Regions from separate parts of the Homo sapiens genome. Here region 1 is linked to region 2. The links come from fine-mapping of genetic effects on gene expression. A gene starts in region 2. The other region holds a variant in brackets. All regions are shown on one strand. Distances are from middle to middle.

What was found. PIP is the estimated chance that this variant, and not a neighbour inherited with it, causes the effect.
Region 1: its variant is fine-mapped to the expression of DCAF8 in whole blood (TOPMed, PIP above 0.99).

Annotation. Positions count from the first base shown.
Region 1 is chr1:160,311,154-160,319,475 of GRCh38, reverse strand. It overlaps COPA (coat protein complex I subunit alpha), which reads left to right. Exons shown (of 33, transcript NM_004371.4): 9 at 5,351-5,486; 10 at 6,309-6,391; 11 at 7,458-7,608. It also overlaps the pseudogene SUMO1P3. Among named protein-coding and RNA genes, the nearest start is that of COPA, 28 kb to the left of the region's middle. The variant G/C (reference allele first, on the strand shown) is at 4,140.
Region 2 is chr1:160,258,524-160,266,845 of GRCh38, reverse strand. It overlaps DCAF8 (DDB1 and CUL4 associated factor 8), which reads left to right and starts at 4,297. Exons shown (of 14, transcript NM_015726.4): 1 at 4,297-4,397; 2 at 5,488-5,561. DCAF8-DT (DCAF8 divergent transcript) reads right to left here and starts at 5,097. Exons shown (of 2, transcript NR_147618.1): 1 at 4,924-5,097; 2 at 4,068-4,445. It also overlaps the pseudogene RPSAP18. RefSeq lists enhancers at 4,213-4,482, 5,113-5,242, 4,414-5,362.

The sequences.
Region 1 (8,322 bases), 53 kb before region 2:
GATCTGTCTGTTTTTGAGAGTGGGGTATTAGCTCTCCTACTATTATCATATTGTAGTCTACCTCTCCTTTTGGATCTATTAGTGTTTGCTTTATATACTTGGGAGCTTTGGTGTTGGGTGCACAGATACTTATAATTGTTATTTCCTCTTGCTGAATTGACCCCTTTATCATTATATAGTGACCTTCTTTGTCTCTTTTTACAATCTTAGGTTTGGTAGTCTGTTTTATCTCATGTAAGTATAGCTACGCCTGCTCTTTTCTGGTTTCCAGTTTCATGGAATATCTCCCACTCCTTCGTTTTCAGTCTATGTGTGTCTGTATAGGTAAATGGGTTTCTTGAGGGCAGCATATAGTTAGGTCTTCTCTCTTTATCCGTTTAGCCACTCTATGCCTTTTAATTGAAGAATTGAGAGCATTTACATTCAGTGATATTATTGATAAGCAAGGACTTATTACTGCTGTTTTTTGCTTGTTTTCTGGTTTTGTTTTGTTTTTTTTTGAGGCTTCTCTCTTCCTTTTCTTACTGTCTTCTTTTGTGGTTAAGTGATTTTCTTTGGTAATATGTCTTAATTTGATGCTTTTTATTTTTAGTGAGTATATATTAATAGTTTTTGTGCTGTAATTACCATGAGATTCACAAAAAAAAATCTTATAGATAGAATAAGGTATTTTAAAGAGATGACAGCTTATTTTATATCACAAACACAAGAACAAAAACAAAGGCTAAAACACACTCAGAAATTATACATTTAACTCCATTTCTGTTCCTGCCTTTTTGACTATCTCTTTAACATGTTGCTATAGCTATTATTGCTTTTGATATATTTGTCTTTTGGGCTTCATAGTAAAGTTATAAGTGGATTGTGTACCACCATTATAGTAATATAGTCTTCTGGGTTTGTCTATGAACTTAATTTTACATCTTGGGTTTTATATCTTGAAAAGTTTTCTTTTTGCACATTAGTGTTTTTTTTTTTTTTTTGTTTTTTTTTTTTTTTTTTTTTTTACAAATATTGTTTATTTTAATGAAGCTGGTACAGACAATGTCCATTTAAAACCCATATCCCAGGCCAAAAAGTACAAATAAAATCAAAAAGAGCAGTGTTCTGTTGTATTCATTTCTGCATGTATAGCTTTATTAATTGCTAATGAAAATTAGAACTTTTCTGGGATCTTCTGACAAGATTTTTAAAAAATCTTAAAATGCCTTTTCTTCAATGAAGCCATCTTTGGAGTTAGTCATTACTCTCTCCTTATCAGTTATCTTGACTTCAACCCGATATTCCTCTTCTTTTGGTCCAGACCCTCAAATTTAAGAGTAGCTTGAAGTTAAGGAAAGGTCATTTTTCCACAGTTTCAGTTCTCTGAAACACTTCCATCTCCCACTGAAAGTCACAGTCCAGGAGTGAAGTAATCACATGCTAGAACATCAGGGCCAATTCGCAAGTTATTATGAACGCTTGCATTGGTCAATCTTATTTATCACCACAAGCCTGAAAATGCAATGTCCTGAAAAAGGTGGGCTCTCTGTGCACACGTAATTTTTAAAAAGGAGAGGGTAATATGAAGGGGACTGAGGCTTGATCACCAAAAATCAGCACAATGAAAATAAACAATAATGAATAATGAGCACTAGAATTCAGATTACCAGATGTTTCAAAGAGATGGGGTGCCAGTTTTCAATTCCGTTTTTAACACCACATTACAAAAGAACTATTTTTAAAAATGAGAAAGGATTGAGGGAAAAGAAAAAAAATAAAAAGAATATCTAAACTGTTGAATGACCCCCCATTTGTTCCTGATAAACTTCAATCACATCTTCTTCCTCCATTCCCAGTTCTTTTGGAGTATGATTATCAGCAATTCTCTGACCCTCAAAGAGAAACCTGAATGAATTCATTGGAACGCCCTGTCTTTGACAGTATGATTCTTTGAGTTTCTTGAGATGTGTTGTCATTTTCACTTTGAAGTGAATCTCACTGCTATCCTGTCCAATGACTTTGAGTTTAATATATTCACCTTCCTTCTTATCCCCCAAGTCCTCAGTTGAAGGTTTTGCCTCCTGGTCAGACATGATGACAGTGGCTTCACCCGGGGGTCTCCGCACAGCAGCGGCCTCGGGTAAGCAGAACCTCACTCCGGGGTTTACAAATCCTTCTCCCTTCCCCACAGCACAACACCGCAGCTGCAGTAACTTCCGCTACCACATTAGTGTTTTTTTCTTTCAGATCGAAGAACTACTTTTAACACTTACTGTAAGATGGATCTGGTGGTGGTAAATTCTCACCTTTTGTTTGTATGGGAAATACTATCCTTCATATTTGGAAAATAAAATAATCTTGCTGGGTACAGTATTCTTAGATGTCAGGTTTTTTCTTTGAGCACTTGGAAAATGTCATTCCTCTCTCTCTTGGCCTGTATGGTTTGCATTGAAACATCTATTGCCAGACAAATTGGAGCTCCTTTGTGTGTTCTTTGCTTCTTTTCTGTTGTGTATTTTAGGATCCTTTCTTTGTCCTTGACTTTTGAGAGTTTGACTTTTATATGCCTTAGGGTAGTCTTACTTGGGTTGGACCTGTTTGGTGTTCTCAGGCCTTCCTGTACCTGGATATTTCTTCCTCAAGTTTTGGAAAATTTTCTGTAATTATTTCTTTGAATAAGCTTTCTACGCTTGCTCTTGCTTAGCTCCCTCTTGAAAACCAATCATTCTTTTTTTTTTTTTTTGAGACAGAATTTTGCTCTTGTTGGCCAGGCTGGAGTGCAATGGTGCGATCTCAGCTCACCATGACCTCCGCCTCCCGAGTTCAAGTGATTCTCCTCCCTCAGCCTCCCGAGTAGCTGGGATTATAGGCATGCACCACCACACCCGGCTAATTTTGTATTTTTAGTAGAGACAGGGTTTCTCCATGTTGGTTAGGGTGGTTGCAAACTCCTGACCTTAGATGATCCGCCCACCTCAGCCTCCCAAAGTGCTATGATTACAGGCATGAGCCACCACGCCAGCCAATTGTTCTTAAATTTGGTCTTTTGAGGCAATTTTCTGTATCTTGTAGTCTTGTAGGTAGTCTTTGTTCCTTTTCATTCTTTTTATTTTTTCCTCTGACTTCTTTTTTTTTCAAGACAGGGTCTTGCTCTGTCACCCAGGCTGGAGTGCAATGGTACAATCTCAGCTCACTGCAACCTCCACCTCCCGGGTTCAAGTGATTCTCCTGCCTCAGCCTCCCAAGTAGCTGGTATTACAGGCATCCACCACCAGGTCTGGCTAATTTTGGTATTTTTAGTAGAAACAGGGTTTCACTATGTCGGCCAGGCTGGTCTCGAACTCCTGACCTTGTGATCCACCCACCTCGGCCTCCCAAAGTGCTGGGATTATAGGTGTGAGCCACCATGCCCAGCCTGACTGTGTATTTTTCAAACAGCCAGTCTTCGAGCTCACTGATTTTTTTCCTCCACTTGGTCCAGTCTGCTATTCAGAGTCTCTAATGAGCTCTTCATTTCAGCAAATGTGTTTCTGTTTCAAGATTTCTGTTTGATTTGTTTTCATTGTTTCAATCTCTTTGTTAAACTTCTCTGGTAAATTTCTTAATTGTTTTTCAGCCATCTCTTGGCGATAACAGGGTTTCCTTTAAACTACCAGTTTTAATTCTTGGTCAGAGATCACAAATTGCTGTCATTTTAGGGTCAGTCATTGTATTTTTGCTTTGTCCTTGTGGGGAGGTTATGGTTCCCTGTTTGCTATTGTTTATTTTGGGTATACACCTATGTCTTTGTATTGAAAGATTAGTTACTTATTCCAGTTTTCTCTGTTTGGCTTGCTTTGGTTTTTATTGGATATATTTGCTTAGCAAATCTGTACTGCTAGGTCACTTCCTCCTCTTTGGCTTTAGGTGACACCTTAAGTCCGGGTTCACCTTGGCTTTAGTAAATGACCAGAGCATTGTCTGTCCTGAATGGGGAGGTCCCAAAGGGATTATCCCAGCTGTGTGTCAAGGCTGGCTAGAGGTTCGTGTATGGGCAGACCTGTGGAATATACTTCCTGCAATGCAGTGCTGCTGAGCAGCCACTCTGATTTGGCATCTCCTTTGGCCAAGTAACAGAGCAGAGTTTCTGGGGCTGGGTGTGATAGTCTTGCCTCCCC[G/C]CTTTCTCTCTGCCTGTCCTCAGGGATATTTCCCCTTTCAGGCAGTCGTGATGCTTCCCATGGGTTAAGTCAAGGTTAGATCTCCTGCCAGGGCACCCAGGAAGATGGGGAAGGTAGTTGACCTCCTCAGTCTCACTTTTTCCAGTGTAGAAACCATGAGTTGGGGGAGGGCCATTGCAGATGTGGAAATCAGATGCTCTTACCATCTGCTCAGAGTTTTTTCATCTCTCTGTGGCCCCAGGAACTGTCTCATTGTCATATTTGAGTTCTGGGTTGTTGCTGATGAAAATCTCAGCACTGTATATTTGTTTTGGGTTTTCTGTGGAGGGGAGTGAAGCCAGCTTGCTTCTATACCACTGTTTTGAAACTGAAAGTATTCCTTCTTTCCCTTTTTTCCTGTGGTGGTACCCTTATTTTGAGGAGTATGAACATAGAATTCATCCATTCATTTGACAAATATTTATTGAGTACCTCCTTTGTACTAGACTTTGTTTAAGGCTCTGGAGATACAGCGGTGACTAAAACAGATAAGGCCCCTGTCTGAAGGAGCTCATATTTGTTCTAAAATGGCAACTCCTAAAGTGGCAGGTCCCTGAAAAAAAGAAAAAATAACAAAAATTGAAAGGCCAACTAGGACAGTTGTTATCAGGACAGATAAAACAGGATAAAGGGATGGAGAATGATGAAAAAGAGGTGTTTGTTTTTTTGAGACAGGGTCTTGCTCTGTTGCCCAGCCTGGAGTTTGGTGGTGCATTCACGGCTCACTGCCGTCTTGACCTTTTGGGCTTGGGCGATCCTCCCCCTCAGCCTCCTGAGTAGCTGGGACTACAAACGTGCGCCACAACACCCAGTTAATTTTTGTATTTTTTGTAGAGATGGGGTTTTTTACCATGTTGCCCAGGCTGATCTCGAACTCCTAGGCTCAAGTGATCCCCCTACCTTAGCCTCCCAAAGTTCTGGGATTACAGGTGTGAGCCACCATGTCTGGCCAAGAGAAGAGGTTTTATAATCAATAAGAGGGTCAGAATGAAAGAACCAAGACATGTAAAGATTAAGAGACTTAAATGAAGAAGATTGCCATATTAGAAAGAAGTTGGCAATTTAGCATTCTGTAATAGTACTTAGTTCTTGATGAAGAGGATGTCATATCTCCAAATCCTAAAGTTATAGTAGTAGGGAATTGTGATGACCTAATTCTTTTTGTCCTTCAGAATCAAAGGCATGGGAGGTTGATACCTGCCGGGGCCATTACAACAATGTATCTTGTGCCGTCTTCCACCCTCGCCAAGAGTTGATCCTCAGCAATTCTGAGGACAAGAGTATTCGAGTCTGGGATATGTCTAAGCGGTAAGGTAGTCCTCAGTGTTGTGTGAACTTTCTCTTACTCTCTCTTTTAAAATTAGATTGGAATACTTCTTTATGTCTCTCATCATCTTCAGCATGTAGACAAATCAAATCATATATTATGAAAATTTGAAGAGACCTAGAGATCAGTCAACATTTACAAATTTTCCATCAAATAGAAATCTCCATGTATATTATTTTTTGCCTCTAAATTTAAACATGTTTTCTTCTTCCCCCTTTCCCCAGTTCTGTAGCTAGAGAAGTAAGAAATGCGGAATGAGGCCGGGCGCGGTGGCTCATGCCTGTAATCCCAGCACTTGGGAGGCTGAGGCGGGTGGATCACGAGGTCAGGAGATTGAGACCATCCTGGCTAACACAATGAAACCCCGTCTCTACTAAAAATACAAAAAATTAGCCGGGCGTGGTGGCGGGCGCCTGTAGTCCCAGCTACTCAGGAGGCTGAGGCAGAAGAATGGCATGAACCTGGGAGGTGGAGCTTGCAGTGAGCCGAGATCGCGCCACTGCACTCCAGCCTGGGCAACAGAGCGAGACTCCGTCTCAAAAAAAAAAAAATGCAGAATGAAAGCCATAAAATTATGCTGAAAAGGGGAAATCTATATATCATAATAATATGGTCAGTTTTGAAGTCTCCTCTTTTTGTTCCTTGGTAGAATTTATCACGACTACTGTTACTTAGGATATGCAGTTTACTCTCCCTGATTTACATTTTAATCAGCTTGCTGGCTTACCATTTAATATTCTTGTGTAGGATGGGCTGAAGATTCCTAGGAAATTAATGTTTTTCTTTTTGTGTACCTTTTCTAGGACTGGGGTTCAGACTTTCCGCAGAGACCATGATCGTTTCTGGGTCCTAGCTGCTCACCCTAACCTTAACCTCTTTGCAGCAGGTAAGGGCCATTTTCTCTCTTTTTTCTTTGCTTAATTCAAAGTTTATAAGTCTTGAAAGTGATTATTAGCTTTGTCTCTAGTAAATGTATAGTAGGATGACAAGAAGAAGAAGGACTCTCAGAGCCACTTAGTTGAAGCTTTTCTCCTTTTTTTCTTCCACTTTATATGTACGTAAAATGATGTGTGGTGAAAAATGCTTTGAAGAAAAATTAAAGGTAAGGCAGATAGAGACAGATGAGTATGGGGACTGCTGCTTTATATTGGGTGGTTCAGAAAAGTGAAAGGGTATGAGGCAATGGGAACAGCAAATGCAGAGACTGTGTTGTGAGAGGTGCTTAGCATGTCACCATCACATGCTAAGGAACACCAAAGAGGCCAGTTGGAGCACAGTGAGTAAGGGACTGAGTAACAGGTGAGGTCTGGCCAGATCGTGTATTGCCTTCTATGCCATGGTTAGAACTTAAGATTTTATTCTGAATACATGGAAAGCCATTGGAAGGTTTTGGGCAGGAAAGTGACATGATCTGGTTTATATTTGGAGAGCAGACAGTAGGAGAACAAGAGTGGAAGGGTTTTCTAAGGGATGATGGTGCTAGTAGGGAAAGAGCAAAACATTTTAAAAAACAGAATCACAAAGGGTTTTTAACATCCATTTTTTCAGTAAATACTTCTTATACTCTTTTTATATGCTAGAGACTGGGGAAGGATGGAAATTATAATTTCTGCCTTCAGGGAATTCATGTTACAATGTGGGTGATAGACCTAAATGATTACAGTGCAGGATGATAAGTACTGTAATGGAGGTTTGTACAAAGCATTAGGGGAACACAGAAAAGGGCAGTGTGGATAGTGACACTAAGTGTGGCAGTGTGAATAGTATTAGGAAAGGATTCACAGAGAATTATTTAAATAAAGATTCCAAGAATTGTGAGAATTTAGGCAAATAAGGGATGCATTCAGGTGTCTTGTCTTACAGATATAATCTTCATCCTTACGTATCTCCAATTTCCAGGTTTTTTTCTTGCCTACAGCTTAATTTTTTCTCCTCCTCTCCCTGTCCCCCAGGCCATGATGGTGGTATGATTGTGTTTAAGCTGGAACGGGAACGGCCAGCCTATGCTGTTCATGGCAATATGCTACACTATGTCAAGGACCGATTCTTACGACAGCTGGATTTCAACAGCTCCAAAGATGTAGCTGTGATGCAGTTGCGGAGGTAAATCGGACTTGTTTCTTTCCTCCAAACCCTCTCATCTGTCACCCTGATACAACTCCCACAAACAAGACTCTTCTTTTCTTTCTTTCATTTATTTATTTTATTTATTTAATTTTTTTTTGAGACGGAGTCTCGCTTTGTCGCCCAGGCTGGAGTGCAGTGGCGCGATCTCGGCTCACTGCAAGCTCCGCCTCCCGGGTTCACACCATTCTCCTGCCTCAGCCTCCCAAGTACTGGGACTACAGGCGCCCGCCACCACGCCTGGCTAATTTTTTGTATTTTTTAGTAGAGACGGTTTCACCATGTTAGCCAGGATGGTCTCAATCTCCTGACCTCATGATCTGCCTGGCTTGGCCTCCCAAAGTGCTGGGATTACAGGCGTGAGCCACCGCGCCCAGCCTATTTATTTATTTTTAAATTTTTTTTTTTTGAGATGGAGTCTCACTCTGTCACCCAGGCTGGAGCGCAGTGATGCAACCTCAGCTCACTGCAACCTCCACCTCCTGGGTTCAAGCAATTCTCCTGCCTCAGTCTCCCAAGTAGCTGGGATTACAGGTGTGCACCACCACACCTGGCTAATTTTGTATTTTGAGTAGAGACGGGGTTTCGCTGTGTTGGTCAGGCTGGCCTCGAACTCCTGACCTTGTGATCCGCCCACCTCGGCCTCCCAAAGTTCTGGGATTGCAGGCGTGAGCCACCGCACCCAACCAAGAC
Region 2 (8,322 bases):
AGGGGCTGACCATCAGCCTCTCACAGAGGCATCTTATGTTAATCTACCTACCATCGCTCTGTGTAACACAGATTCTCCTCTGCGCTATGTGGACATTGCCATCCCGTGCAACAACAAGGGAGCTCACTGAGTGGGTTTGATGTGGTGGATGCTGGCTCGGGAAGTACTGTGCATGCGTGGCACCATTTCCCGTGAACACCCATGGGAGGTCATGCCTGATCTCTGCTTCTACAGAGATCCTGAAGAGATTGAAAAAGAAGAGCAGGCTGCTGCTGAAAAGGCAGTGACCAAGGAGGAATTTCAGGGTGAATGGTCTGCTCCAGCTCCTGAGTTCACTGCTACTCAGCCTGAGGTTGCAGACTGGTTTGAAGGTATACAGGTGCCCTCTGTGCCTATTCAGCAGTTCCTACTGAACAATGGAGCACTCAGCCTGCCACGGAATACTGGTCTGCAGCTCCCACTGCTCAGGCCACTGAATGGGTAGGAGCAACCACTGAATGGTCTTAAGCTGTTCTTGCATGGGCTCTTAAGCAACATGGAAAAATGGTTGATGGAAAATAAACATCAGTTTCTAAAAAATAAAAAAATAAAAAATAAAAATAAAAGACTTGGAAGTCATCATTACGTGGATGGTAGTTTTTCTTTTTTTTGGAGACAGGGTCTCACTCTGTCATCCAGGCTGGAGTGCAGTGGTGTGACCTCAGTTCACTGCAACCTCTGCCTCCCAGGCTCAAGAGATCTTCCTACCTCAGCCTCCTGAGTAGCTGGTGCACACCACCACTCCCTGCTAATTTTTGTATTTTTTGTAGAGATGAGGTTTCGCCATGTTGCCCAGGCTGGTCCTGAGCTCAAACAATCTGCCCACCTTGGCCTTCCAAAGTGCTGGAATTACAGACGTGACCCACTGCGCCCGGCCCTGGACAGTAGTTTAAATGTGAGAATGGATACAATCACTGAAAGAACATGTAGAATGAAGGGGAAGAGAAGCTAATTAAATAAATGATTAGAGAGATAAAAACAAAACCGTGGAATATAGTGTTACGGAAACCAGTGGGATTGAGTATCTGTCACAAGATGGATACACAAGGGATAATAATCATCACAACCTCAAATTCAATAGGAAAGCCCAAATAAGAAAGGGAGAATTCAGTGGTAATAGCTATTGATTTGGTGGTAATAACCATGGTGTCCACAAAACAGTGGGTACAAAAAGCAGATCATAGAAAGGGAGGCCTCTATCCCTATAGCTTCCACTAAGATGACTTGCCATGGTCTAATCCTCCATTTTCCAAGTCCGATGGTCAATTTCCAGTTATCTTAACCTGTTTTATGACAGGAATGATGGAGATTATAGCCCCTTCTTGAAGCTTTTTTTTTTTGGTTTGTTTTATAAGACCCCTCACTTTTGAGTTTTATTCTTCCTATTTCCTGGCTACTCTTTTTAAATAAATTTTGCTGTATGTTCCTCCTCTCTGACCTTTATTAGTTGGAATGCCTCAGGATTAGAGGTCTCAGTCTTTAAACTGCTTCTCTTTGCTTCCACATTGATTTCTCTCCACCCCATGGCTATGTATGCCATTTATAACTTAATTAATCCTTAATTTATACCTCTCATTGTCCCTTGTATGAGCCCCAGGTTCATATTTCCAATTGTTTACTCAGTAGCTCCATTCGGAAATCTAATAGGGATCTCCAGTTTAATATGTTTGAAGTAAAATTGGACATTCCCCCCCGCCAAAAAAAACCTTGCTCCTGTCTCCTCACATGCGCTCTCAGTAAACGACATCACTATTTATCCAGTTACTCAAATCAAACTGATTTTTGTACTTTGACTTTTGTACTTTTTTACTGATTTTTTATTCTTGTCTTTATCTTGTACCCCACATTCAATCTATTAACACATCACCTCTCCACCACTTTCAGAGTACATCCTGAATCCTACCAATTTCATTGCAACACTAGTTTTGCAGGTCTTCTGCAATAGCTTCCTAACTGGTCTTTTAGCTTCTATTTGGCTTCCCTATAGGGAATTCTCAAAGAATAACCAGAGTGAACATCTTCAATTATAAATCAGATCATGCCACTCTTCTACTCAAAACCCTCCATGGCTTCCTAGCATTCTTAGGATAAAATTCAAAGTCCTTTCTTTGGTCCATAAGTCCGTAAGTGATCTGGCTCCCATCTTGTTTCTCCAAACTAAGTTCCTATCTATTCTTTTGCCACAGTGGCTTCCTTGCCAAGCACACTCAAGCTGCAGGGTCTTTACCTTGTTGTTTCTTCTGCTTGAAATATTCTTTCCCAAGTATGTATAGCTTATTGTCTCACTTCAAACCTTTATTTAGATGTCACCTCAGCAGAGGGGCCTTCTCTGAATCCCCTATGTAAAAGAGCACACCCATCCAGGTAACCCATTTTTATTCTGCTTTATTTTCCTTTACAGTACTCTTTATAACTTTATTATCTGTGTGTCTCTCCCCTCCTCCTATGCTCCCAACCCTTGCACTAATAAGTTCCATGAATGCAAGAATCTTGGTTCTATTCACTGTTGCAGCCCCAGCACATAGAACAGGGCCTTCCAGAGCAGGAATTCAATAGTTGTTGACTGAATGAATGAAAGAATGAATAGGACGGTGGGGCATTAAATAGCTACTTTGTGCTGTAGCCCTCTTCTAGGTGTTGAGATTACAAAGATGATAAAAACACAGTCCTTGCCCTCAAGAATTTATATTCTAGTAGTATAGCTGGATCACAAACATAATTTTAGATTAAATGTTATAGGTAAAAAATGTTATTAAAAAAACAGTGCAGAGTAAGGGGATAGAGGAGGATGACATGAGGTTCCATTTTAGTTACAATAGTCAAGAGCTGCCTGTGTTAGGAAGTAGGATTTCAATAGACACCTCAAGTCTAGTAAATATCTAGTAGATGGACATTCCAAGAAAAGGAAAAAAACCCTAGGGCTGGGACATGCTTTGACTGGAGTGACAGTAAGGCTAGTGAGGCTAGAGCAGAGCTAGGCAGTGTGGGAGGAGATGAATCAGATAAATAGGCAGGTGCTAGATCAGATCATGTAGGGTCCTCCTTAGAGGCAATTCATTTTTTGATGGCCTCTAAGGCTATCATACTTTTGACTTTTATTATGTGATGGGAATTGGAGGTTTTGAGCAGGGTGGGGACTGGGGAAATAATACGACATTACTTTTTTTTTGAGACGGAGTCTCATTCCATTGCCCAGCCTGGAGTGCAGTGGTGCGATCTCAGCTCACTGCAACCTCCGCCTCCGGGTTCAAGCAATTCTCCTGCCTCAGCCTCCCAAGTAGCTGGGATTGCAGGCGCGCTCCACCATGCCGGGTAATTTTTTTTTTTTTTTGTATTTTTCGTAGAGACGGGTTTCACCATGTTGGCCTGGTTTCAAACGAGTTTCGAACTCCTGACCTCAAGTGATCCGCCCACATCCGCCTCCCAAAGTGCTAGGATTACAGGCATGAGCCACCGCGCCCGGCCAGACCTTACATTTTTAAAAAGCACTCTGGCTGCCTTATGTTTAACTGTAATGGCAATAATGGAAGTAGACAAACGAGGTAAGTTTCTATTGCGGTAGTCTTAAGTAATATGTAATGACTTGGAATAGGAGAGTAGCGGTAGGGGAGGTGAGAAAGGGTCAGATTTTTGCACCCTGGGCTTCTGGTAAGAAAAAAAAAAAAAATACCCCAGCCTGGCAGCTGGGAGTAATCCTCTGCAGGGTTACTGTAGGTGTCATAACGAAACAGAGTACAAAAGTCACCCCACATCACCCGGCCCACTCTTGGGAACCTTTACCCACACCACCTCTCTTCAGAAAAGAGCTTCTGGAATAGCTACACCTCAAGCTACTGAGCCCCTTCTTTAAAAATACGTAAATGGGGACTCTCAGGGGAAAATGGGCCTCGATAGTATAGAAACCACTTAAGGAAACAAAGCCCTGAAAGGAAACGGGGATTTTCAGAAGAAATCCTTGTGGCAATCATTGCTCGTTCCAGTGTTCAAAAACGGCAAAACTGGCCATCATCCAGGAAGTGGCCTGCCAATCCGCTGGAAATTTAGTTTATTTCTATCACAACTCTGGGTAGCCCCTAACTCGCATTTGTTTAGAGTATCACAAGATAAGCAAGCCCGAAGAAACTACAAAAACAACTTTGCCTCTTCGGTAATGCGCAGGCGCCTCTCGCTCTGTTTTCCGTTGGCCTTAAGCCCCGCCCCTTGTGCGTCCTTCGAGGAGGGTTGCGAGCCGTGAGCTCGCGCGACCACTCTTCCCTCAGTCTTCTCGAGCACATCGTCGCAAACGGGGCCGGAAAGCGTGGCAGCGCAGGCGCAAGCGCAGAGAGCGGAGGCGGTGGTGGTGGCGGCCGCTGGCCAGTGTAAGATGGCGGCGGCGTTGGTGGTGGCAGTGGACGGGGCGGCTGGGCCTGGAACAGTCGGAGCAGCCGCTAGCAGAAGGATGACCCAAGACGGGAAGCGGGCTGCTGAGCCTCGCCGATTCCCGTGCTTGTAACTGCCCCAGCCGGACACCCCCCCTCCCTTGACCTACCCGGTCTGTGTCTCGTTCCGGCTCGGCCTGCGCCCCCCCTCGCTTCCCAGCCGGTTTCCCCTAAGGATGGGCCTGACCCGTATCCCAAGCTCTTAGCGCTCAGGTCTTTTCCTTCCGCCGACCCGAAGTCATCGCTGGGAGTACTGGTTGCCCTTTCCTCAGGTCAGCCCTGGTGTTGCCCCCAAGAGCCAGCCGCACAGTTCACAGGGACGCCTTGCTTCGTTGGGTGACCCATGTGTGCGCTCCTATTTCTCCCCTTAGATTGAGGGACACGGCTCGCCCTGCGTCTCCCCGTCACCTCAGGGCCACCGCGCAATGTGTCCCCCTCCCCCATCCCAAGTTCCCAGGCCCAGCACCTTGTACGGAAGGCGGAGGTCCAAGAATTCCGGAGTCGGTTGTTGTCTTGTGGTCTTGTACCCTTTGTAATATAATTATCTTAGTTTACCTCCTCTAACTCCCAAATCTTTTAGGATATCTTAGAACGGTCCCATTTGGTCCCTGTTAGTTGGAAAGCATCTGGTGGCTTGAATTTCTGACTCATGATTGTTACTGGAGTCTCTGTAAACAAACCGGCACTAGCGCTATCACATTCTCTCCGGGATTTCCCCCCCTGCTCTGTGGCTTCTTGTTGAGAGGTTGTTTGGTTATGGTTTAGCGTTGAAAAGATTCAGGTTATCCTTTTAAATGACTTTACGTTTTAGTGGAGCTGGGAGATTACTTGCCTGGCTTCTAATCTTCATGTTGGTTCATTTTATTTCCATATGTGTGTGGGTTATTTGTTCAGTAATTAGAATTAGATAAAGTATTCTGCTTTTAAGTAGTTTTGAGAAGGCCTAAAAATACTAAAGTGTATTCATAAATATTTTTATTATGTTCAGTAGAAGACACACCTTTGCCATGTAAATTTTAACTTTTCTCAGTCCTTCAGTGAATCTACAGACCTATTTTCTCAGGAGCTCAGCCTGGCCTTACTTCAGTGATAAAAGGAGGAAAGGTGAGTGGGAGTTGGAGGCATTAAAATTCTTGAGTTCAAGACAGACTGCGCTGATGCTCAACTGCTGACCACTAAAGTCATAAAATTCCTACCAGTTTCCCAAAGAGCTTGAGTGTTGTTCTTGGCTTTGTTCCAGCTCTGGTTGAATTACTTTTACAAGTTTAATTGTCTGTGGGCTTCTTGTCTTTCTGTCCTAAACTATTGCTGTGTATCTCCAAATGACTTAAGCCTAGAAGTGAATGTGTGCCCCCTGCCCCATGTCTTCTTTTCTTCTTTATTCATTTTCCTTGTATTTTGTCTTTGTGTCGATCATATTTTTTACGTTGTTAAAAACTGGAACTTAGTTTGCCTGAGTTCTGTTCATCCTGTTGTCAAATCAGGTCTCTTCCCCTCTCACAGCTTCGGGTTGTCATCCCTTGGTATTTAGAGGAGAATATTTAGCTGCTTGTGACTAAAAGCTGGGGAGTGATGAGTGATGCTGCCTTTAGTTGGTGTCTGAGTCCAGTCTATTTCAGAATTCCGACTTTTTAGGATATAGTGGGAAATTTTTTGTAAAAAAAAAAAAAAAATAGTGGCTGCTCTTTCTTTTGTAGCTGGTCTGAAGAATTCTTGGTTAGCAGAAGAAACATCCTGGGCATTCAGCAGCATGGGTTGGTGCCAAAAAGGGAGTCAGAACATACTTATAAATGCAGTTTTCGTGAGGCTTTCAGGTTTCTGGTAGCAGAGACTAGAGGCTCATGGCATGTGACAGAAAAGCTAAGTGACTGGAAGGTAGGCCTGGCCAATTCCTAATATCTTTATGATTTGTAGTAGGAAAATATTGAGTGACACTGGTGAGTTTTATTCCATCTGATGACTGAATTAGAAAATGCTCATCATGGACTGGAATAAAATTATTAGTGATGGTGTATATGTGTATCAGTAAGATATAAAGAGAAAAGTACAGTCTTTAGAGATTGGACAGACTTTTAATTTAATTTTAAGGTTTAAATACTAGACTAATATTTCTTAGCCATGTGACCTTGAGCAAGTTACTTAAACTTCTCTGACTCTTAATTTCCACAACTCTAAAAGTGTGATAATACCACTTACCTCCCAGGGTCATTGTTAGTATTATAGGGAATCTATTTAAAGCTCTTAGTAATCTAAGAACACGTGGTACACACTCAAAAAATGTTGTTTTTTGGTTTTTTTTTTTTGCACATCATTGATACAGCTTTGAATAAGTTATACGTTAATTTATGCTTCTTTTACATTTTGCCTTAGAACACATTTTTCTGGTTAATTTTCCCAACTGATTTTTAATTGGTCAGCTTAGACGTGTCCTTTGTAAGTGCCCACCTAGAGTTGTCTTCTGAACATGAAACCCTTGGTGGGGGTTCATAACCAGAGGACAGAGAATATTAGATATTGGTGTATGTATATTTCAAAATGTATTCTTAAACATCAGTAAATTTTTTTGTTCATTGGTTCCTTCATCTTGGACTCTCTGTTAGCACACCTGATCAGAGTTGGCCGTGTTGTAATTCTTTCCCTCTCTGCTGCAATGTTGTTTACTTCTACTGCAACTATTCTTTATACTTTCCTTTTTTGCCATGAAGGGAATACATTTTTTCCTTCTTGTTGGGCTATACAGTGATCCTCATCAACAAATTATCAAAGAACTGTATGAGGAAAAGGTCTCTTTTTTTAAAAGTGAATCAGGGCTGGGGAGTTAGGAATGAAGAGGTTTTTTTTGTTTGTTTGTTTGTTTTTTGACGAGTCTTGCTCTGTCACCAGGCTGGGGTGCTGTGGCGCGATCTCAGCCCACTGCAACCTCCGACTCCCTGGTTCAAGCGATTCTCCTGCCTCAACCTCCCGAGTAGCTGGGATTACAGGCATGCGCCACCATGCCCAGCTAATTTTTGTATTTTTAGTAGAGGAGGGGTTTCACCATGTTGGCCAGGGTGGTCTCAATCTCCTGACCTTGTGATCTGCCCGCCTCAGCCTCCCAAAGTGCTAGGATTACAGGTGTGAACCACCATGCCCGGCCAAAGAGTTCTTTTTTCAGCTCCACAGCTGGACCGTCTTAATAATATGACAGCACAGATGAAGAGTTTTAAACCTTTTGTTGGCTTTTCTTTCGTATCTTTTTGGCAAGGGCACATGAAAATTAAGTACTGATAATATCACAATGAAAGCAGCTGTGTCATTCAGACCAGTGACCATTTTAGGTTTGATGAACTTTTCATTACCATCATCCAGGGTCTAAATTCTCCATTGTAAGGTAAGGATTCTCCAGGGTGGTGGTGAGGTGGGTTGAGATTGCATTTGTATCATTTGTGTTTTTATGAACTCTGAAGATCCATGTCGGGTGAAGGAAAGGATGGGAGGAGAAAAGGAAATACTTTGAAAGAGGGATAACTTGGACTGTTTATTTCCTTATGTGCTGGGTAAGAATGTCCAGGTGACATCTATATGTAGTAAATCAGTATTTCTAGTCTGTGGACCACACTGTAAACTTTTTATCTTTCTAAAGTTTTTTTTATTTTTGTAGAGATAGGGTCTCACTTTGTTGCCTAGGCTGGTCTCAAACTCCTGGGCTCAAGTGATCTTCCCACCTCAGCTGAGTAGCTGGGACCGCAGGGGCATATCACCATACCTAGCTAATTTTTGGTTGTTTTTTTTTTGTTTGTTTGTTTTTTTAAAGAGATGAGGTCTTACTTGCCCGGCTCAAGTGATGCTCCCATCTTGGCCTCCCAAAGTGCTGGGATTACAGGCA